Regions from separate parts of the Homo sapiens genome. Here all the other regions are linked to region 3. The links come from fine-mapping of genetic effects on gene expression. A gene starts in region 3. Each other region holds a variant in brackets. All regions are shown on one strand. Distances are from middle to middle. Region 1 has its middle 44 kb from the start of GIN1. Region 2 overlaps PAM (peptidylglycine alpha-amidating monooxygenase). Region 3 holds the start of PAM (peptidylglycine alpha-amidating monooxygenase).

Evidence for each region. PIP is the estimated chance that this variant, and not a neighbour inherited with it, causes the effect.
Region 1: its variant is the best candidate, but not a certain one, in a credible set for the expression of PAM in whole blood (INTERVAL, PIP 0.57).
Region 2: its variant is the best candidate, but not a certain one, in a credible set for the expression of PAM in whole blood (TwinsUK, PIP 0.57).

The regions. Positions count from the first base shown.
Region 1 is chr5:103,072,550-103,080,550 of GRCh38, forward strand. No RefSeq gene overlaps it. Among named protein-coding and RNA genes, the nearest start is that of GIN1, 44 kb to the right of the region's middle. The variant G/A (reference allele first, on the strand shown) is at 3,466.
Region 2 is chr5:102,790,007-102,798,007 of GRCh38, forward strand. The region is part of intron 1 of PAM (peptidylglycine alpha-amidating monooxygenase); the gene reads left to right. Among named protein-coding and RNA genes, the nearest start is that of PAM, 39 kb to the left of the region's middle. The variant G/GA (reference allele first, on the strand shown) is at 3,366.
Region 3 is chr5:102,751,677-102,759,677 of GRCh38, forward strand. It overlaps PAM (peptidylglycine alpha-amidating monooxygenase), which reads left to right and starts at 3,629. Exons shown (of 26, transcript NM_001177306.2): 1 at 3,629-3,672. RefSeq lists enhancers at 2,658-3,183, 4,191-4,691, 4,263-4,352 and a silencer at 3,323-3,872.

The sequences.
Region 1 (8,001 bases), 320 kb after region 3:
TGATGTTAAGCTTTTTTCACGTCTGTTGGCCACATCAATGTCTTCTTTTGAGAAGCATCTGCTCATATCCTTTGCCCACTTTTTGATGGGTTGTTTGTCTTTTTCTTGTAAATTTCTTTGAGTTCCTTGTAAATTTTGGATATTAGACCTTTGTTGGATGGGAAGATTGCCAAAATTTTCACCCATTCTGTAGGCTGCCTGTTTACTCTGATGATAGTTTCTTTTGCTGTGCAGAGGCGCTTTAGATTAATTAGATCCCATTTGTCAATTTTAGTTTTTGTTGTAACTGCTTTTGGCAATTTCATCGTAAAATCTTAGCCCATGCCTATGTCCTGAATGGTATTGCCTACGTTTTCTTCTAGGGTTTTTATGGTTTTGGGTTTCACATTTAAGTCTTAGATCCATCCTGAGTTAATTTTTGTATAAGGTGTAAGGAAGGGGTCCAGTTTCAGTTTTCTGCATATGGCCAGCCAGTTTTCTCAGCACCATTTACTAAATAGGGACTCTTTTCCCCATTGCTTGTTTTTGTCTGGTTTGTTGAAAATCAGATCGTTGTAGATGTGTGGCCTTATTTCTGAGGTCTCTATTCTGTTCCATTGGCCTACATGTCTGTGTTGGTACCAGTACCATGCTGTTTTGGTTACTGTAGCCTTTTAGTGTAGTTAGAAGTCAGGTAGTGTGATGCCTCCAGCTTTGTTCTTTCTGCTTAGGATTGTCTTGGCTATATGGGCTCTTTTTTGGTTCCATATAAATTTGAAAGTAGTTTTTTTTTTTCTAATTTTGTGAAGAATGTCAATGGTAGTTTGATGGGAATAGCACTGAATCTGTAAATTACTTTGGGCAGTATGGCCATTTTCACGATATTGATTCTTCCTGTCCATGAGGATGAAATGTTTTTCCATTTGTTTGTGTCCTCTCTTTTTGCTTTAGCAGTGGTTTGTAGTTCTCCTTGCAAAGGTCCTTCATGTCTGATATGGTTTGGCTCTGTGTCTCCAGCCAAATCTCATCTTGTAGCTCCCATAATTCACACATGCTGTGGGAGGGACCTGGTGGGAGATGATTGAATGATGGCTGTGAGTCTCTCCCATGCTGTTCTTGTGGTACTGAATGGGTCTCACAGGATCTGATGCGTTTTAAAATGGGAGTTGCCCTGCACAAGCTCTCTTTTTGCCTGCTGCCATCCATGTAAGATGTGACTTGCTCCTCCTTGCCTTCCACCAAGATTGTGAGGCCTCCCCAGCCACGTGGAACGGTAAATCCAGTAAACCTCTTTGTTTTGTAAATTGCCCAGTCTGGAGTATGTCTTTATCAGCAGCGTGAAAACAGACTAATGAAGTAAATTGGTACTAGTAGAGTAAGGCATTGCTGAAAAGATACCTGAAAATATGGAAGCAACATTGGAACTGGGTAACAGGCAGAGGTTGGAACAGTCTGGAGGGCTCAGAAGAAGACAGGAAAATGTGGGAAAGTTTGGAACTTCCTAAAGACTTCTGAATGGCTTTGACAAAAATGCTGATAGTGATATGAACAATAAGGTCCAGGCTGAGGTGGTCTCAGATGGAGATAAGGAACTTGTTGGGAACTGGAGCAAAGGTAACTCTTGTAATGTTTCATCAAAGAGACTGGTGGCATTTTGCCCCTGCCCAGGAGACTTGTGGAACTTGGAACTGGAGGCAGATGATTTAGGATCTGGCAGAAGAAATTTCTAAGCAGCAAAACATTCAAGAGGTGACTTGGGTGCTGTTAAAAGGATTCAGTTTTGAAAGTGAAACACAGCATAAAACTTTGGAAAATTTGCAGCCAGACAATGCAATAGAAAAGAAAATCCCATTTTCTGAGGCAAAATTCAAGCTGGCTGCAGAAATCTGCAAAAGTAATGAGGAGCTGAATGTTAATTCTGAAGACAATAGGGAAAATGTCTTCAGGGCATTTCAGAGGTCTTCACAGCAGCCCCTCCCATCACAGGCCCAGAGGCCTAGGGGGAAAAGATGGTTTTGTGGGCCAGGTCCAGGACCCCCCCTGCTCTGTGCAGCCTAGGGACTTGGTACACTGTGTTCTAGCTGCTCCAGCCATGGAAGAAAGGGGCCAGGGTACAGCTCAGGCTGTTGCTTCAGAGGGTGGAAGCCCCAATTCTTATCAGCTTCTACACAGTATTGAATCTGTAAGTGCACAGATGTCAAGAATTGAGGTTTGGGAACCTCTGCCTAGATTTCAGAAGATTTATGAAAATGCCTGGATGCCCAGGAAGAAGTTTGCTGCAGGGGTGGGGCCCTCATGGAGAACCTCTGCTACGGCAGTGCAGAAGGGAAATGTGGGGTCAGAGATGCCGTGCAGAGTCCTTACTGGGGGAGCACCTAGTGGAGCAGTGAGAAGAGGGCCACCATCCTCCAGACCCCAGACTGGTAGATCCATGGAGAGCTTGCACCGTGTGCCTGAAAAAGCCAAAGACATTCAATGCCAGCCTGTGAAAGCAACTGGGAGAGAGGCTATACCCTGCAAAGCCACAGGGGTGGAGGTGCCAAAGAATATGGGAACCTACCTATTGCATCAGTGTGACTTGGATGTGAGACATGGAGTCAAGAGATCATTTTGGAGCTTTAACTGCCCTGCTGGATATTGGACTTGCATGGGGCCTGTAGTCCCTTTGTTTTGGCCAATTTCTCCCATTTGGAGAGGCTGTATTTATCCAATGCCTCTACCCCCATTGTATCTAGCAAGTAACTAACTTGCTTTTCATATTACAGGCTCATAGGCAGAGGGACTTGCCTTGTCTCAGATGAAACTTTGGACTGTGGACATTTCGGTTAATGTCAAAATGAGCTGAGACTTTGGGTGACTGTTGGGAAGACATGATTGGTTTTGAAATGTGGAGATATGAGATATGAGAGGGAATAATATTGTCTGGTTCTGTGTCCCCACCCAAATGTCATCTTGTATCTCCCGTAATTCCCACGTGTTGTGGGAGGGACACAGTGGGAGATGATTGAATTATGGGGTGGGTCTCTCCCATGCTGTTCTCATGATAGTGAATGGGTCTCACGAGATCTGATGGTTTTAGAAATGGGAGATGTCCTGCATAAGCTCTCCTTTTGTCTGCTGCCATCCATGTAAGATGTGACTTGCTCCTCCTTGCCATCCGCCATGATTGTGAAACCTCCCCAGCCACATGAAACTGTTAAGTCCAATGAACCTCTTTAGTAAATTGCCCAGTCTTGGGTATGTCTTTACCAGCAGTGTGAAAAGACTAATACAACAACCCTTGTTAGCTGTATTCCTAGATATTTTATTCTTTTTGTAGCAACTGTGAATGGGAGTTCACTCATGATATGGCTCTCTGCTTGTGTATTGTTAATGTATAGAAATGCTTGTGAATTTTGCACACTGATTTTGTATCTGACACTTTGCTGAAATTGCTTATCAGCTGAAATGAGGGGGTTTTCTACATATAGGATCATCTTGTCTGCA[G/A]ACGGAGACAATTTGACTTTCTCTCTTCCTATTTGAATACCGTTTCTGTCTTTCTCTTGCTTGACTGCTCTGGTCAGAAGTTCCAAAACTATGTTGAATAGGAGTGATGAGAGGGCATCCTTGTCTTGTGCCGGTCTTCAAAGCCCTGTGCCAGTCTTCAAAGGGAATATTCTGCTTTTGCCTGTTCAGTATGATATTGGCTGTGGGTTTGTCATAAATAGCTCTTATTATTTTGAGATATGTTCCATCAATACCTGATTTATAGAGTTTTTAACATGAAGGGATGTTGAATTTTCTCAAAGGCCTTTTCTGCATCTATTGAGATAATCTTGTGGTTTTTGTCATTGGTTCTGTTTATGTGATGGGTTACATTTACTGATGTGCGTATGTTGAACCGGCCTTGCATCCCAAGGATAAAACCAACTTGATCATGGTGGATAACCTTTTGATGTGCTGCTGGATACAGTTTGCCAGTATATTATCGAGGATTTTCACATGGATGTTCATCAGGGATATTGGCCTGAAGTTTTCTTTTTTGTAGTGTCTCTGCCAGGTTTTGGTATCAGGATGATGCTGGCCTCATAAAATGAGTTAGGAAGGAGTCCCTCCTTTTCAATTGTTTGGAATAGTTTCAGAAGCAACGGTACCAGCTCCTCTTTGTATCTCTGGTAGAATTTGGTTGTAAATCTGTCTGGTCCTGGGCTTTGTTTGGTTGGTAAGCTATTTATTACTGCCTCAATTTTGGAACTTGGTATTTGCCGATTCAGGGATTTGACTTCTTCCTGGTTTAGTCTTGGGAGGGTGTATGTATCCAGGAATTTATCCATTTCTTCTAGATTTTCTAGTTTATTTGCACAGGAGTGTTCATAGTATATTTTATGGTAGTTTGTATTTCTGTGGGGTCAGTGATGATATCCCCTTTATCATTTTTTATTGTGTCTGTTTGATTCTTCTTTCTTTTCTTCTTTACTATCTAGCTAGTGTTCCATTTTGTTAATTTTTCCAAAAAAATAAACCACTCCTGGATTCATTTATTTTTTTGAAGAGTTGTTTCTCTATCTCCTCCAGTTCCATTCTGATCTTAGTTATTTCTAGTCTTCTGTTAGCTCTGGACTTGTTTGCTCTTGCTTCTCTAGGTCTTTTGTGATGTTATGGTGTTGACCTGAGATCTTTCTAGCTGACGTGGGCATTTAGTGCTATACATTTCCCCCTTAATACTGCTTTAGCTACAGCTCAGTGATTCTAGTACATTGTCTCTTTGTTCTCATTGGTTTCAAAGAACTTCTTGATGTCTGCCTTAATTTCATTATTTACCCAGGAGTCATTCAGGAGCAGGTTGTCCAATTTCCATGTAGTTTTGTGGTTTTCAGGGAGTTTCTTAATCCTGAGTTCCAATTTGATTGCATTGTGGTCTGAGAGACTGTTATTATTTCAGTTCTTTTGCATTTGCTGAGGAGTGTTTTACTTCCAAATATATGGTCGATTTTATAATAAGTGCCATGTGGCACTGAGAAGAATGTATATTTTGTTGTTTGGAGGTGGAGAGTTCCGTAGATATATATTAGGTCCACTTGATCCAGAGCTAAGTACAAGTCCTGAATATCCTTGTTAATTTTCTCTCTCATTGGTCTAATATTGACAGTGTGGTGTTAATATCTCACACTATTATTGCGTGGAAGTCTAAATCTCTTTGTAGGTCTCTAAGAACTTATTTTATGAATCTGGGTGTTCCTGTATTGGGTGCATATATATATATCTTCTTGTTGAATTGATCCCTTTACCATTATGTTAATGCTCTTCTTCGTCTTTTTTTAAATCTTTGTTGGTTTAAAGTCTGTTTTGTCAGAGACTAGGATTGCAACCCCTGCTATTTTGCTATTTTGCTTGGTAAATTTTCCTCCGTCACTTTATTTTGAGCCTATGTGTGTCTTTGCATGTGAGATGGATCTCTTGAATGCAGCACACTGATGAGTCTTGACTCTATCCAATTTGCCAGTCTGTGTCTTTTAATTGGGGCATTTAGTCCATTTACATTTAAGGTTAATATTGTTATGTGTGAATTTGATCCTGTCATCATGAGGCTAGCTGGTTATTTTACACACTAGTTGATGCAGCTTCTTCATCGTGTCATTGGTCTTTATATTTTGTGTGTTTTTGCAGTGACTTGTACTGGTTTTTCCTTTCCATATTTAGGGCTTCCTTCAGGAGCTCTTGCAAGGCAGGTCTGGTGGTGATGAATTCCCTCAGCATTTGCTTCTCTGAAAAGGATTTTATTTCTACTTTGCTTATGATGCTTAGTTTAGCCAGATATGAAATTCTGGGCTGAAAATTCTTTTAAGAATGTTGAATATTGGTTCCCACTCTCTTCTGGCTTGTTGAATTTCTGCTAAGAGATCTGCCTTCTATTAGTCTGATGAGCTTCCCTTTGTAGGTGACCTCACCTTTCTCTCTGGCTGCCATAACATTTTTCCTTCATTTCGACCTTGGAGAATCTGATGATTACGTGTCTTGGGGTTGATCTTCTCATGGAATATCTTAGTGGGGTTCTCTGTATTTCCTAAATTTGAATGTTGGCCTGTCTTGCTAGTTTGGGGAAGTTCTCCTGGATAAAATCCTTAAGTGTGTTATCCAACTTGGTTCCCCTCTCCCCATCTCTTTCAGGTATTCCAATCAGTCATAAGTTCAGTCTTTTTACATAGTCCCATATTTCTCAGAGGTTGTGTTCGTTCCTTTTCATTCTTTTCCTCTAATCTTGGCTGTCTCCCTTATTTCAGCAAGATGGTCTTCAATCTCTAATATTCTTTCTTCTGCTTGATCAACTTGGATATTGATATTGTGTATGCTTCACAAAGTTCTCATGCTTTATTTTTCAGCTCCATCAGGTCATTTATGTTCCTCTCTAAACTGGTTATTCTAGTTAGCATCTCCTGTAGCCTTTCATCAAGGTTCTTAGCTTCTTTGCATTGGGTTAGAACATGAGCCTTTACCTCAGCAAAGTTTGTTCTTGCCCACCTTCTGAAGTCTACTTCTGTCAATTCATCCATCTCATTCTCCATCCAGTACTGCACCCTTGTTGGGGAGGTGTTGCAATTATTTGGAAAACAGGCACTCTGGTCTTTTGGGTTTTCAGTGTTTTTTTCATTGATCCTTTCTCATCTTCATGAATTTGTCTAGTTTCTATCTTTGAGGCTGCTGACCCTTGGATGAGGTTTTTGTGGGGACATTTTTTGTTCATGCTGTTGTTGCTTTTTTTTTTTTTTTCAATAGTCAGGTCCCTTTTCTGTAGGCCTGCTGCAGTTTGCTGGTGGCTCACTTCAGGCCTTAGTCATCTGTTTTGCTTCCATGCCTGGAGATGTCACTCAAGGAGGCTGGAGAACAGCAAAGATGGGTGCCTGCTCCTTCTTCTGGGATCTCAGACCTTGAGGGTCACTTACCTGATGCCAGTAGGAATGCTCCTTTATAGGGTGTCTGACAACCCCTGTTGGGGTGGTCTCAACCAGTTGGGTGGCACAGGAAGCAGGATCCATTTAACAAAGCAATTTGGCTGTCCTTAGTGGATGGGGTGTGCTGTGCTGAGGGAATACCCACTCGTCTGGGCTGCCTGGATTCCTCAAAGCTAGCAGGAGGAAAGACTAAGTCTGTTGGTCCATGGAGATTATGGTCACCCCTTCCACTAGGGGCTCAGGCCCACGGAGGTCAGAGTTCTGTCTGTGAGCCCTGGGCTGGAGTTGTTGGAGTTCCTGCAGGCAAGTCCTGCCCAAGGAGGAGGGATGTATCAGGGTCTGGCCTGAAGAGGCAATCTGGCCGTGGTCTGCCACAACCGGTGTGCTGGGCTGTGGGGATACCTCTTGGGTCCAGCCATCCAGCCTCCCTGGATCCAGCAGGGTAAAAGTGCAGCCCAGAGCTATAGTGATAGCTGCTGCCCTTCCCCACAAAGAGCTTAGTGTGTTAGGTAGCTAGCAGCTGCAGTGTTGGCTGCCATCCCTTCCCCAAGGAGCTCAGATGGCTTAGACCGCAGGCAGCCACAGAAGTGGCAATAGCTGTCCCTCCCCTCAGGAACTCAGCAGGCACAGGCAGATTCTAGCTGAGTGGTTTTTGAGAATCTGCATGGCTCTGTGGTTGGAACCCAAGGTCCTGGTGGTGCTGTACAGTTCCGTGGAAAAAGGATGGTTCACCAGGCTTGGTAGCATGCTCACTCACTGCCTTCCTTGGCTGTGGATGAGGGCTCCCCTGCCCCATGTGGCTCTCAGGTGGGCCGTCACACTACACAGATCTTCCTTCATCTCCATGGGTCGTGCCAGCCACCTAGTCAGTCCTGATGACAGAACCTGGATCTTATTTGCCATTGCAGGATTCGGACGCTATTTTGGTTCTTTTCAATGAGAGCCTCCAATTGCTGCTGCTTCTAGTCGGCCATCTTGGCCTCACTAATCCCAGTTATGTTCTTTTTGCTCAAGACTGATTTGACTATTCATTCTTTTTGGTCCCACTCAAATTTTAGAATTGTTTTTCATATTTCTGTGAAAAATGTTGTTG
Region 2 (8,001 bases), 38 kb after region 3:
TTGCCCATATTTAAAAAATATTTTATTTCAGTACTTCACATAATTCTTGGAACATGGAAGATGCTCAGTAAATATTTGTTGATTGTTATTTGTTTATTCAGGAAATTATAGACATAGCTTCATGTGCAAAATAATCAGCTTAACTGCAACTCTTAAAGTCTGCTTACATGCTCAGTGAACAGATAGAAAACACAGCATTTAAAATACAAATAATTAAAACATGTCCTGTCCGACATAGGAGATTATGGAAACGAATGTGTCCTGGCTATGCCGCAAATTTTTGTTGTTGATATAAAAAAACAGTAACTTTATCTGAGGATGGACAATTGGTTTGGCTGAAAGACTGCCTCTAGGATCGATAGTGCTATTATTCCCATTGTATAGATGCACAAAGAGGTTTAGAGAGATCACAGCAGAGCTTGTAGCCATCTTACTGCTTATTTTACAATGACAGTAGCTTTCAATAAGCCTGTGGTTCTTATGAGGATGATTTGACTATTATCCTGGGAATAGATCTAAGTGATGAGAAACCTATCCTAATAGTGTGGTATTAGGTTAGATAGAGCTTCTTCATATGGTATTAGGTTAGACAGAGATACTTTTGCCAGGTAGAGAAGCGATGCCTCTCTCTTCATTTCTGTGGGCATAGAATCAATTTTAGCCTCTTACAGAACACTATTTTCATTATTCTCAGCAGTGCTATTCTAGTTATCAGAAACTGAGCATCAGATATAAGAAGTCACATAATTTTATTTTTCTGAGCAATTATATTTCCCCCCATTGTTTTCTTGAATTATACTTGTTCATTATGAAAAATTGTCAAATGCAAAAAAACATAAGCACAAAGAAGACAATATTTTTAAATTACCCATTATTTTACTACCCAGAGATAAGCACTGATATCATTTGTTTGTGTGTCAGCCATTCTGCTGTTCTGTTCATGCATATATGCACATATACAAACAGAGATTCAAAACCATAAGACATAAAATTAAGATAACTGAGCAATATTTTTCACTGAGCATTAGATAGTGAACATTTTCTCCTGTCACTAAATGTTCTTTTACAGCTGCATCTAAGTAGCTGCATTACATTTTATTTTATGCCTCTATCAGTCCTCTATTATTGGGATCTTAGAAATTTGTTTTTGCTGTTATAAATGACACTCTGATGAAAATACTTTTAGATTAATTTTTTCCTATCTCTACTTTCTTAAAATAAATTTCTAGAAGTAAAATTAAGTAGAAGAGTGTGGATATTTTTATGTGTTTGATACGTATATGCCAAATTGTTCTTTAAAAAAGCCATGTGACAGTTTATATTTCTGTGGCAGTCTGTATGAGAACACCCATTTCCCAGCCTGAAATTAGCTTTCTTTTTTTTAACTGCCAATTCAAGAATACGTTATAACTTGGATTGATAACATGAACATTTTTTATATTATTTTTGAACATTTTTATATTATTTTTACTTCTACATGTGGTTACTCTGTTGATGTTTTCCTCTTTTCTTTTATATTTGTAAGACTTATTTATGTGTTAAAGACATTAACCCAGTTGTATTTTATTTCTTTTGCAACTACTTTTTCTCCAGCAGATTCTTCTGTTTTCAACATTTTGCCAAGTGTTACTGAAGAAAAAATAAAATAAATTTTAAAACCAAACCAAAAAACCTCTTTAGATAGCTAACTTTATTTGGGGTTTGTTTCTGAATGCAAGATAGGCATACTGTAGTAAATTCCCTTCTTTCAACCCTGGGTTGAAATCCTGTCAATTAATTAGTTGTATTTAGTCTTACAATAGATAAACCAGGTAGTTTCACATAGCCTGTTTCTAGGGTTTTATCTAGGACATCGTAGGAGTTTCTTGAAGGAAAATATAGCTATAGGGAACATTTTAATTTGGATCTGCTTCATTACTCCAAATATTGTTGAAACAACACCAGATGTCATCTTTACTGGGCAATATACAAACATTGGGAGAAGTTGTACCCATACTAATAAGGGTGAACATAAAAAATGGACTATTGCTCAGATTTGTGTTCTTTACAGCAGAGTGTTTGACAAACTCTTTGATCCTTCTTTTTTTTCACAAGTGGAGATTAGAGCCATTTATTGTTTGGGGGTTGTAATTTATATTTAAACATGGTATGTATGGAATTTAGGAAATTCACCTTAGACATATGAAGCTTAACATTAATGTGTGTGTATATGTGGGTTTGTGTATATGCTGGAGGGAATAAGAAGTGACAAAAGTAATCTAAAATCTTAATGTTGAGAAAAATATTAAAGGTAAATGAAATCTTTATTGTCATAAACTGCTCTCCAATCCAGTACTGATAAACGACGTGGGGAAAGACTATGGAGGTTACTTTCAAAACAAACATTTACCATGTTCCAGGAAATACATGTGTTTGTATAAAAAGCAGGTAGCAATTACATAAACTTTTTTCTTCTTTATCTATTTGCCAAGCAATTGGCTGTTAAGGTCTTTTTGGTTGCCTTTGGGCACTTTGTGTGCACTCTTTTCTGCTTTTAAAAACATAATGCATGGTAACCCATTTGCCACTGACTGGCATTGTGAAGAGTTGGAATGGGGCAGTGTAATAACATGAAAGGCTGATGACAAATTTAGTATTTGTAATTTGGAATCTCTTCTCAGTACATTAGAAGTCTTCCCTATTTAAAGGAACCCTGAAACCATCATTTTATCAAGTGAAGAGTTTGTAACACATGATTACCATTGGTTTTCTTACAAATCAGAATACAGCTTCAGTTTTTGAGGCTCCTACCACAGTTATTATGGTGGTCTCTTACTGGCTGACACTTTGATTATGAGCAGGAAATGTGCTTTCTGCAGCCACACACACACAAAAAGTGACACAAAAGTATTAGGTCATACAGTAGCACGTAAGTTCAGAGTGCCTCCTAGTGGAGTCTAGTGTTGATCAAGTAACATTGGAATAATTTTTTCATTCCTCTAAAAAAATCTCCCCTTTGGCATCATGGTTGGTTATGAATCTTGGGCCTCATAGGAGCACAACATTCTCCACTAAAATAATGTTTTACTCATACTTTTTCCTTTCTTCCTTTAAAAATTAGGTAAGATACCTTCTCTGAATGTGTGAATTTTTTATAGAACACCGAAGATTCTTTGCGTTTAAAATTCCCTCCGTGTAAATTAAGTCCAAAGTGCCTAGGCTTTTCCATTTCTAATGTTTAAGTTAAAGACTTGTAAATTGGGCTGGGTGCAGTGGCTCATGCCTGTAACCCCTGCACTTTGGCAGATTCGGAGGATCCCTTGAGCCCAGGAGTTTGGGAGCAGTCTGGGCAACATAGGGAGACCCCTGTCTCTTCAAAAAAAAAT[G/GA]AAAAAAAAAATAGCTGAGCATGGTGGCACACACCTGTGGTACTAGCTATTTGGGAGGCTGACGTGGGAGGATTGCTTGAGCCTGGGAGGTGGAGGCTGCAGTGAGCCTGATCGCACCACTGCTCTCCAGCCTGGGTGACAGAGTGAGACACTGTCTCAAAACAAAACAACAACCAAAGACACTTGTCAGTGGAAATGTTTGAAATTTTGGAACTATTAGAATGTATTTAACTAAAACAGCTATTGCTTAAATGCAGCATTTTAAGTACTGGTTTTTTTCAAAGCTCAGACAAGCAGCAATATAGAAATATCCCTGGTCATTTAAGAAACTGAGCCAGGAACAGATTTTAAAACACTTTTGAAAATATTAAATGCTTTAAGTAATTATAGCAAGTATTTTATCCTAAGTTTATATACACAATTAATTTATCAATTTGTAGTGATTATAGTAAGAGAAGATTACTTTTATACTTAGAATAAAAAACTTTTAAAGTCAGCAATATGTGAAATATGTATTGAATATATTATGCTATATTTATCTGAGTATTTTGGTTTAACAAATTAAATGCATATTTTTTTCTTTTTAAAAAATGTATTGACCATATTTATATAACTACTTATCTTTTTATTTGGTAGATTTAAGTAAAATTTATTATTTATTTAACACTTTTGAATTTATATTATACTTGAAGTGGTTTATTTATCCTTGGCCAGCTACCCCCTTGAGACTCTGGCTTTCTATTTTATAGAACTATTTTAATGATAGTTTAAACATGTATACCTGTTACTGGTTATTTTCTGTTCCCCTTATCTTGGGAGTTCAGCATAATGCTGTGCGGATCAGGATAACAAGGTCCCACTGAGGTGAAGGAGGGAGGCTGGGAATGGCTACAGCCTGGAGTGGAGGTGTGATTTCAGTAGGTGGAAGGTTGTCTTCCTGAAAGGAATTGGCAGAAGTAGATTCTTACTGATTCAGATACATTTTCCACCAACTGAAGGAAGGAATTATTAAAGCCAATGGTGAACAAAGCATTTCAAGCATTTTATAGGAAGTGACTAGATGAGGAGATTTTTTTCATTCCTTTTTTAATCAGCAAAAAAGAAATTAGTATTATTGAATTAGCAGATTCTTCCTATTCTATATTAAGAAAGATTTAATTTTTGTACCAAGGAAGGTTAGGTGAAAAAAAAGATTTATTTTTTTTGTAGAAAACTGAAGATAGTTTGATTCAATATGAAACAGTGATATTTATATTTATGCTGATTCCACCACCAAAAAATTATTACATGTACAAATTAAATAGAGATTATCAGCTTAAAAAATATAGAACATTTACATGTGGCTATGAACATTCTGATGCTAATTTTTTTGTTTGATGACTATGTACTTTAAAATCTGGCATTGTCTTTCATGAGATTTACAAGTCCTGTGTCCATTGTGTTGTTTACTTAGGTTATTTGGCTTTCCTCAAACTTAAACAAGCATTAGCTGGTTGCTCCAAAGAGTAACAAAAGAAGATGCAGGAAAATGCTTGGGGCCAGGTGCGGTGGCTCACACCTGTAATCCTAGCACTCTGGCAGGCTGAGGCTCGCAGATCACTTGTGCCCAGGAGTTGGAGACCAGCCTGGTCAACATAGGGAAACCCCATCTCTACAAAAAATAAAAAAATTAGCTGGGAGTGGTGGTGGGCTCTGTTAGTCCCAGCTACTTGTGGGGCTGAGGCAGGAGAATCACTTGAACCCGGGAGGTTGAGGCCATAGTGAGTCATGATGGCACCACTGCACTCCAGCCAGGGTGACAAAGTGAGACAATGTCTCAAAAAAAAAAAAAAAAAAAAAAAGAAGAGAAGAAAAAGAAAAAGAAAAGTGCTTGGAATGGGAGATGAGTTATCCTACTTTGATACTTCTTGTTTCCTCTTTCTACTGATGTCTTTCTCTGCACATCCTTAGGTAAAACTCAAAAATTACTATTGAGATTTTTGCAGGAACCAAATGAGACAGGAAGAAATGTTTTAAACTGCTGTCTAACCTCTAATACTGGTGATGCCGTTTTTGGAGTACCACTAACAGTTTAAAAGTGCTTATCAGAGCAACTCTCGCTGCTTTAATTTGCGTGTACAGATTGCTGTTAGTGTTGTTACTATCTGTTTTGTATCAGGCTAGCTAATTTCCTTGTTTATTAACTAAATGACTTTCTTAATGGCTACCCTTTTGACAAATGAAGAAATCTTAGCTGCTCTGAGAGGGAAAACCAAAATTAAAAATTCACAGTGAAAGGGATGAGGAACATACGTATTTGTGCTGCTGCCGTGTGGTTGGTGTGAGAGAAAAATCTGGTGATTGACCTTGATCCCTAACGGAAAGTCACAAAAATATGTATAATTTGGTCTTCAGCCATAAAATAAATGGCAACTCTCTTCACTTAAAGCAGGGATTTTCATTCCTTTGTTTTGGGTGCGGAAAAGGGAATCTTTTCCAACCTCATTATCAGAGAGTTTAGTGCATTTTTTCCTGAAATGTTTTACAATTTCCATTTTGTCAGACACATTTTGTTGGAGTTCATAGTTTATTAACCATGAGTTATTTTTTTTAGTTTATACTTGAAGATTTAGAGGCCTGTGATATTTTGTTTAAAGGCTTCTAAATGATCCAAACAAATCAGAATATGCACCAGCCTCAGCAAAAACTCCTGTGATCTGTTGACAGATTTTTGGATCTGGGCCCTTGGAAGAGGCACTGGACATTTGTAACAGGAGGTAATTTGAGATCTGTACAAACAAGTTTTTATTTGTTCAAGTTAATGAGGGCAACACCAGTGGAGTTGGACCCTCTGTAGCTAATAGTCTGTGAGCTCCATGGGCCCTTCATGAAGTCAGTCTCCAAAGGTCACCTGCAATCCATGTTAGGAACCAGGTTTGTCGGTCAATAGTCTAGGACTCATAGATCGATCTGTGCCTCTGCAACCAGGGAATCTGACATGGTACCAAAATGTTTATTTATTTCCCAGATGTCATCCCAGAGTTTGGGCAATGAGATTGGATATTTGCAGTTCCACACAGTGGAAATTCACCTTTTAAATAAGGCAAGAAAAATTGATCTTCCTAGTGTCTGGTAGGAGTCTGGTAGGAGTCATCTTTGCTCTTGGTAAGATTATAATTCTCTTACCTGTTTATTGTCATTTTTTTGAGCACCACAGTCAGCCAAATAAGATTAGAGAAAATTGTGAAAGAGAAAGCATTTCTTTCAATTCAGTCCTTTCATTCAACTCTCTTTGTACTTTGCCTCCTTCATTTTCTTTCGTTTGCTCATCACATTCAGAAGCTCACATTCCCTCATCTTACATGAGGGAAGCTATAAATTTCCCTTTTTGAAATAGTCATCTGCTATCTGTGTAACTATGAGCAAGCTGCTTAACCTCTTTGTGCCTTGGTTTTCTTATTTGTAAAATGGTAATAGATATTACCTGTGTCATAAAGTCGTTACATGGATTGAATGCATTAAGGTGTGTCTAACACTTAACTCAGTACCTGGTTGTACAAAGTGCTAAATGACCATTTATCTAATTATTGCTAATGGAACCTAATAATAGAATAATGATAGAGAGCCATATGCTTCATTGCCAAGTTTCAAAATGCTAAACAAAAATGAATTGTGAATTATTTTGAATGTGCAACAGCACAAGGGCTGGTGTTTTGCTTCTTCTGTAAAAAACAGACTTAAAGAATATCTTTAACATACCAAAGGACTGTTGGGTCATTCTTCAGAAGACTACTGGCATAAAAGAGATTGTCCTAAGAATCCCAGGAATAATAATGAGTCTCTTATTTTTATTGGAAAAGGAGACAACAACAGCCATGGAACTGGTTATTTTATGTATCTTCTGTAACTTTCATTTCTCTCATAATAGACATGGTGCTTTTAAAAATCCAATGTGAATGCTCTAAATCATAAGATCATTATTAAATATTATTTTAAAATTAATATGTCATGGTGAGTGTATTTCTGAGCCATCACATTCATAAACATTTAGAATATAACCTCACCCTTTTGCTTAGAGAATACCTTATGCAAAATGATTTTGAAGGACATTTTGTTTCCTAGTATGTGTTTTCAGCAGGTGGCTAATGGCTTTCGACCTGCTGTAGCAGTATACAGAACTGAATGTCAGGCAGAATATTTTTTAAAGCTGCATTTCCATTTTGCATAATGAAGCACAATAATTTTTCTGAGAGTGCCTTGAATATTTTTCCAAAGAATTATTGATAGAGATATGTCATTTTGGTAGGAAAGAGAAGAGAAAATTGGCAATGTTCCAGCATTTAGGTTTTAAGAATATTTAAGTATAATCAGATTGCTAAATACAAACATTTTTTTAAAATAGTATCAGGTCAAATGTATTTACATGTTAGAAGCCATATAAAGTACATGGTATTAGCCTTCCACCTTTCCTGTATGCTTAGGCCATTGTTCCTACTACTACTACTACTAATAATAACACACTTCAACCTACTCACTTTTCTCTTTAGTAATTTCCATTTTCTCTTGAAATTCATACAGTATATTCTATGGCCTATTTTTATACAACTTTAAGAATTATACATACTAAAGAATAATTTTCAAATTTTGTGTGAAAATA
Region 3 (8,001 bases):
TTGTAATGACAGAGTGCAGAGACAACCTCAGGTGGGGTGGAGCCCTGAGGAGAGTGAAAAGGGAGGCTTCTCCTCACCTAAGTGGAGGTGGTTGGCTCCACTGCCCAAGCTGGCCTGCACACAGAATGGAATGCCTTGAGGCTGTAAGTCTGAGGCTCTGAGGTGAGGTGCACTACTGGGCGTCTGACAGCACAGCTAAAATTGGCTGTGCCAACCAGTGAGAGGTGACAGCATGCCGGCAGCCCTCGCTTGCTCTGGGCACCTCCGTGGCCTTGGCGCCCACTCTGGCCGCGCTTGAGGAGCCCTTCAGCCCGCCGCTGCACTGTGGGAGCCCCTTCCTGCAATGGCGGAGGTCGGAGCCGGCTCCCTCAGCTTGCAGGGAGGTGTGGAGGGAGAGGCGAGGGCGGGAACCAGGGCTGAGCAGGGCGCTTGCAGGCCAGCTAGAGTTCCGGGTGGGCGTGGGCTTGGCGGGCCCACACTCGGAGTGGCCGGCCGGCCTCGCCCGCCAGGGCAGTGAGGGGCTTAGCACCCGGGCCAGCAGCTGCGGAGGGTGCGCCTGGTCCCCCAGCAGTGCTGGCCCACTGGCACTGCACTCGATTTCTCGCTGGGCCTTAGCTACCTCCCTGCGGGGCAGGGCTCGGGACCTGCAGCCCGCCATGCCTGAGCCTCCCCCAAGGCTGTGGGCTCCTGCGCTACCGAACCTCCCCAAGCCTCCTAGACTAGCGCTGCCCCCTGCTCCATCAGCACTCTGTGTCTAGCTCAGGGTTTGTGGATGCACCAATCAGCACTCTGTATCTAGCTAATCTGGTGGGGACCTGGAGAATCTTTATGTCTAGCTAAGGGATTGTGAATACACCAATCAGCACTCTGTGTCTAGCTCAAGGTTTGTAAATGCATCAATCAGCACCCTGTGTCTAGCTCAAGGTTTGTAAATCCACCAATCAGTACTCTGTATCTAGCTGATCTGGTGGGGACTTGGAGAACCTTTATGTCTAGCTAAGAGATTGTGAATACACTAATCAGCACTCTGTATCTAGCTAATCTAGTGGGACTTGGAGAACTTTTGTGTCTAACTCAGGGATTGTAAACGCACCAATCAGCACCCTGTCAAAACGGACCAATCAGCTCTCTGTAAAACAGACCAATCAGCTCTCTGTAAAATGGACCAATCAGCAGGATGTGCGTGGGGCCAGATAAGGGACTAAAAGCAGGCTGCCCCAGTAGCAACTCGCTGGGGTCCCTTTCTACACTGGAGAAGCTTTGCTCTTTTGCTCTTTGCAATAAATCTTGCTGCTGCTCACTTTTTGGGTCCACACTGCCTTTATGAGCTGTAACACTCACCACGAAGGTCTGCAGCTTCACTCCTGAGCCAGTGAGACCACGAACCCACCAGAAGGAAGAAACTCCAAACACATCCAAACATCAGAAGGAACAAACTCCAGACATGCTGCCTTTAAGAACTGTAACACTCACAGAGAGGGTCCGCGGCTTCATTCTTGAAGTCAGTGAGACCAAGAACTCACCAATTCCAGACACACCAGGACCTTGAGGGTGTGAGAGGTTACCGTCAGGTTACATTTAGAAGTGTTGTCCCAACTACTCTCCCACATTTAAGGCAAAAATATAGTCACCACTGAACAAGAAAATCATCTTGGCACAAAAATGTACTGAATTGAAGAAAGAAAACAAAGAGAAACAAAACACCATAGCCTAGAACTCCTGCCCCTCCACATTTTCTTCTCTCTCTCACACCACAAACTTTCTCTCTGTGACACACACACACACACACACACAGAGGAGAGACGTATTTGAGGGAGGGTCTCAAGTGCTTGCTTTCCTTAACAACCCAGACCAGGAGGAAGAGATAAAGTGACTTAGGAGATGCCTAAAGATGAAGAACAGCCCGGGATCCGTAAACAGACTCAGCTCGGTGTCTTCTCGCACCTTCTCAGAATCAAGTTTCCAAAATGAGGGTCATCCGCCTGCCTTGGAATTTGGGTTGGGAAGTGGATGGAGTTCCTGGACACATGCTCTAGGCCCTGACCAGTCTGGCCACTGCTCACTAGGAATTCTGTTGGGAGGGTGTACAACAGATTTTCCAACTGGTCTACAGCGAGCATCGGTAGTTTCCCTATGGAGAAAATGATTTTCTTTCTGGGAATCCCCCTATAGCCTGAAGGCTTTGCCTCATTTCCCATAGCTCCTCTCCGGTGTACCCCTTCGGTTCGCACTTTCCTACCTTCTTCCCAGTCCACTGGCTTCTCCTTCTTTATCTTCCTCAGTGTCCCTTCTCACAACCTCCCTGCTACCACACCAGATTCTGAAGGGGAGGAGTTGTCTGGAAAGACCAGAGCTGGGTGCTGGGGATCTGGAGCAGCTCGGGACCCGCGCTGCAGGGAGCTGGGATGGGAGAGGTGAGGGAGAGGAGGATGGGACTCTGGGAGAAAGAGAGGGGGCTGGGCTGGCGCTGGGGATGGAAGAGGCGAGGTGAACGCACTCAAGCGGTTACCTGCAGACAGGGAGAGACAGTGGCAAATACCTGCCTTCAATTAAACGCATATCAATTTGTGTGTGGGGTCAGTACTGCACATCATCAAGCCTCTTGGGTATAAAACCTTCCTACTGGAACTCTCCAGCCCCGCCCCCACCACCCCACGCGCGGCTCCCTGCTTTCTCTTGCTTTGGGGTGAGGCTGGGGATGTGGGTGGCTCCAGAGTTCCCTGCCCGCAGTTTAGGGGCGAAGTGATCGGTGTGTGCGCGCTGGGCACTCTGCGGGTTAAAAAGGTTTAGCAGAAAGGGATGCAGATGGAGGCGGGAAGCCAGGCTAAGAAAGGGATACCGACCTCCCTCCTCGGGTCGGAGGTGTGAACTGGGAAGCACTGCGCAGACCTGAGCGAGGTGGCCTGAATCCAGGGGCCGGGCAAGGGGGTGGTGTGAATAGAAATAGCACATTTCCCAGGCTTTCAGCCCCGGTACTCTGCCATCCTTCCAGTTCCATGCACTCAGCCAGGTCTCCAGGCTGGAGCAAGGGCTGGGGGTCAATGGGTCCTTCCTTCTCTCGGGAAACGTTCTTCTGGCGCGAAGCTGGGCGGAGGGAGAGTCGGACATTTTCCTCTGCTTCTCTCAGGGCAGCTGGCGTGGCCACCTCGCAAGGCTGCTTCTAGGGACACGAGACTCGGGAGGGTCAGAGACTTTCAGGCCGGGCCTTCACTCCCTTCCCCGGGGCACTTGGGCAAGAGTTCCAGCTCTTGGCTACCTCTGGCCCGCGCGTGAGTTCAGACACCCAGCACACGCGACCCCCGCAGGGAAACCCCGGGAAGCTGCGCGCAATCGCTGGGGACTCGCCAGGGCTCCACTTCCCAAGCTCCGCGCCCCCTGCGCCCAAAGAGGCAGGGCGGAGCAGAGGCCGCCGGCGTGGAGGAGGCGAGCGCGGGGCTGGCCCGGGAGCCGCCCCCGGGGAGGGACTGAGACCTGCCCCAGGAGTCGAGGGCGAGCGGCGGACCCGGCTGGGCCCGGCGCACGCCGAGGAGAGGGAGCCCCCGCCACCGCCGCTGCCTCCGCGTGCTCAGCCTGTCCCCGCCCAGGGAGCCGGAGCCTCCAACTAACTCCGCCCGCCGCTCCGCCGCCCGCAGGCTCCGGCTTCCGTCCCGGACAGAGCCCGTGGTCGCGCAGGTTGGTGTTGTTGCCGCTGCTGCCGCCACTGCGAGGCGGTCAGGGCAAGGGTGAGGGTGGGGGCGCGGAAGGGGGCCTGGGCTCGGGATCCTGCTGCCACCAATTCCTGGTGCCCCAGGAGGTTGTTGCTTTTTCTCCCGGGCTGCCCGGGTCGGGGGTGGGGGGATGGGGCGGGGATCCAGCGATGCGGCCAGGGAGGATTTTGGGGACTGAGCTATTCTCGCATTTCCCAAACCTCTCTCACGACCCTTCATCACCATTATTAAGTCCCTGGCCAGTTTGTGAGGGGTCGTCCTCCCCTCCGGTCCTTCTCACCTCCGCACTTCTCCTTGTGCCCTCTCCCTAGGGGGTACAATTTGTTCATTCGCCTTTTCTGCCCCCAACTTGGAGAACTCTCCGTGACGCCTAGAAAGCCTCCTCGGTTCTCCGCCCGCCCTTCAGTCTAGTTTGGGGAAGTAGAGGCCGCCGCGGAGTAGCAACCTGGGGTGTGGAGTGGGGGCGAGTGCCGGGAAGCAGTGGAAATTCCTTCCCCTCTTTCTTTCCCGTCCTTGCCCAGCTTTGCTCTCTTCCTGCCGTTTTGCCAGCCTCCGAATGTAATACGCGGGCGAAGGGCGATCTCCAAGGCAGAATGGGAAGTATCCACCACTTGGGATACTAGTTAAGTCTAGGTTCAGTCACCTTCCCAGCTCTGTGGCCTTGGGACCCGCCCCATCGGAACCTGTATGTTGTCATCTGCAAAATATGCGTCAGCTCTGCCTGCCGCTGAGGGTAGTTGTGGGGCTCCCTTGGGATGACTTAGGGTATTACGTGATTTTGAGCACGGTCTCTTGTCTCGTGCAGCTGCCTGATGGCAGGTCCTGTGTTCTGATCGTCTGAGTTCAGGTCCTTTGGCTGAGATGTGATTATCTCTCTGGGTGATTTGGTCAGTAGCTTTGCGGGGCTAAAAGGCATGTGTTCCTGGAGCTGGTCATTGGGGTTCAGAGTTGAAATCGTGTCGTCCCCACCAATCCCTGTGTACAAAGCTATGGACCTTACATCCTGTGCCTTTGTGGTCATAGAAATTCAAGTAGAAGGAAGATCTTATTGGACTTTGTTTGCTTCAGATGTTTTACATTCTTTACAATCGCTTTTCTCTTCTAGGTGCAAACTTAAATTTACTGCTAATTCTAATAATCCAGGAAGGATACTTTCATTTTAGTAAAATCAGACATTTAGCTCAAATAACATGTGACATATTGTTTGTAAATTTTCAGTTTATAATCACAGGCACAAAAAAGCATAGTTCATGCCATTCTAGTTACTTTATAAAGCAAGTAAATGGCCTAAAAAATCAGCTTTACAGGAAGTCAGGGCTGCAGTGAACTGTGTTTATACCACTGCACTCCAGCCTCGGTGACAGAGCAAGACCCTGTCTCAAAAATAAATAATCAGCTTTAGAATTGATATTAAATGGTAAGCCCTGTCGTTCCTGCATTCCTGACTTAATAGGCATTTTCATTCCGCGATGCACTCTGCTATATGCTTTAAAGATATAAAGATATAGAGTATGTTCCTTGTCCTGAAGGGCCTTCCAAGGTAACTTAAAGACTATGTAGTTTTATTTCATATTTTTATATGAACAGTCTTCTAATGACTATACATGGCAAGTAGAATGAGGTCAAGAATGCATTATCAAAGGCCCTTTAAGATCATCATTTGGCCGGCTGCGGTGGCTCACGCCTGTAATCCCAGCACTTTGGGAGGCCGAGGCGGGCAAATCACAAGGTCAGAAGTTCCGTACCAGCCTGGCCGACATGGTGAAATCCCATCTCTACTAAAAATACAAAAAATTACTTGGGCATAGTGGCAGGCACCTGTAATCCCAGCTACTTGGGAGACTGAGGCAGGAGAATCGCTTGAACCTGGGAGGTGGAGGTTTCAGTGAGCTGAGATCACTCCACACACTCCAGCCCTGGTGACAGAGTGAGACTCTCTCAAAAAAAGATAAAACTAAATAAATAAATAGATAAAAAATCATTTGGTGAGTTTGCATAATTGGAAGAAATAACAAGTTTGTTAAGACATTGCTTTCTAAAATAAAATGCCATGTGCTCCTACTTCATCAAGGTGCACTTGGAAATAAAATGAATTCTGTGTTTTTAGAATGAAAGCTTAGGAAAACATTCTACACATGTATGATGTGCTAATCAAATGTTAAAAGCTATAGAAATTTTAATTCTAACTTCCTTCAACTGTATGTTGTGGTTCCCACATACAGTTTTTTTCTCAACTCCTTGAGGAAGGAAATTATAATGCCTAGAAAAAATATACAGAGATTTAATGTAAGATTTTTAATAAGCTGGACCTTAAGGCCTGGTGGGTCCTGAAGTGACTCTGGAAATTTGACTTTAAAAGTTACGAGACTTGGTGAGACTGAGTGTGGTGGCTCATGCCTGTAATCCCAACACTTTGAGAGGCTGAGGCGGGAGTATTGCTTGAGTTCAGGAGTTTGAAACCAGCAACATAGTGAGACCTTCTCTCTACAAAAAATATTAAAAGAAAAAAAAAGCCAGGTGTGGTGGTGCACGCCGGTAGTCCCAGCTACTCAAGAGGCTGAGGAGGGAGGATCTCTTGAAACTGGGAGGTTGAGGCTATAGTGAGCTGTGATCATGCCACCACACTCCAACTTGGGCCACAGAGAGAGGCCCTGTCTCAAAAAAAAAAAAAAAAAAGACTTAGAATTTTGTTTTTTTTTTTTTTTTTTTTTTTTTTTTTTTTTTTCTTGGGGCAAAGAATGAGCAAGAATTCCACCTGGAAAAGATTGACCAGGGATCTTGACTTTCTGTCTAGGTTGTATTTTGTGTGACTCAGTGACATCTCTGATTCTTTTCCTCCTCCTAGGAAGAATTTATCTATCTGCTATGTGCAGAATTTATTAGGCTTTACATACTGGGCTTTGAGGCTTTGATTGGACTCTCACATTAAGGCATGGCAGGCTGAGGGGCAGCCTGAGGGACATAATGTTAACTTTACACTTGGCTTTATTGTTCCATACCTTTGTTTTTCTATTTGTGAAATGAGATTAAAGATCCTTCTTACTGCCCTGGAAGCCGTGTCATCTGGTATAATAGCCATAAATGCTTCTTGTGTGTATAAGAACTTTCTTTACCATTTGAATGCGAAAGCTAATTATTAAAACCACATACAAATAGCTCAAAAGATGGGCTGTGAATAAAGCTGCTGTTGGTGTCATGTGCTCTCAGGTATCCTGGCAGAAATTTCAGTCATCATGTATCCCTACAATTTACTGTGTTGTGGAGAATAAGGCCTTCATTTTATCTGGGGTTGAATGTTTACCTCTCCAAAATGGGAATAATGAAATACTAACCTGAAAGGACTGTTGTCAGCATTAAATGAGCTAATCCATGTGTGGTTCTTAGCACATTGCCAGTATACAGCTATTGCTCTATGACTCAAGTAGTTATTTTAGTTTCTCCAGGGTAGGGGGAGGGGGGAAGGAATGGAATTTCAGTGGTCCACATTTTAAAAATGAATACATATATAAAAATATAAATACACTCTTCCCCAATATTTTGAAATAGCCATTCCTCAGCTAACTTTTTTCATTCATTTATGCAACAAGTGTTTATTCAGCCCACACTAAACGTTTGGCTTTTTCCTAGGCACTGACATACAATGGTATACAAGACAGTTATAGTCACTTTCTTATGACTGAAAGGTCTAGAGAGGGATGCAGATCTGTAAACAGAGAATTATAAATTTATAAAGAAAATTTTTAAAAAATTATAATGCCATATGATTCATGCCATGATAAGGGTAGTGAAGAGAACCTCAGAAGATAGGATAGCAGGGTCCTGGGTAGGTGAATGTCACACAGTGCATCATCTCATCCTAATTGGGTTGGTGGTGGTGAAGGAAAACTTCCTAGCAGCATGAATACATGAAGACCTGAAGCATGAGTGGTAGTTAGCAGCTGAAGAGGTGGGAAGATTGAAAGAGACCAAAGGGAGCATGATGCCTTAGAATGGAAGTCAGGCAGAAAATGTTAAACAATACATAGGTAAGAGCAGGAGGGAGAGGCGTGGCAATCTGGAGAATCCAAGCTGTCTAAAGGGAAAAGTAGATACTCATTTCAGCCAAGTATTGTCAGGTTGGGATGCAGGCCAAGTGTTGCCAGATGCCTTGATTTCTAAAGAGGAGCTTAAAATTCATATTTTATAAATATGAAATCTCCCAAATATGAACTAACCCAAATGTTTTAAAAACTATTCTGTGGGCCAAACCAGACAAATCTGTAGTTGGAATTCAACCTAGGGCCACCACTTTATG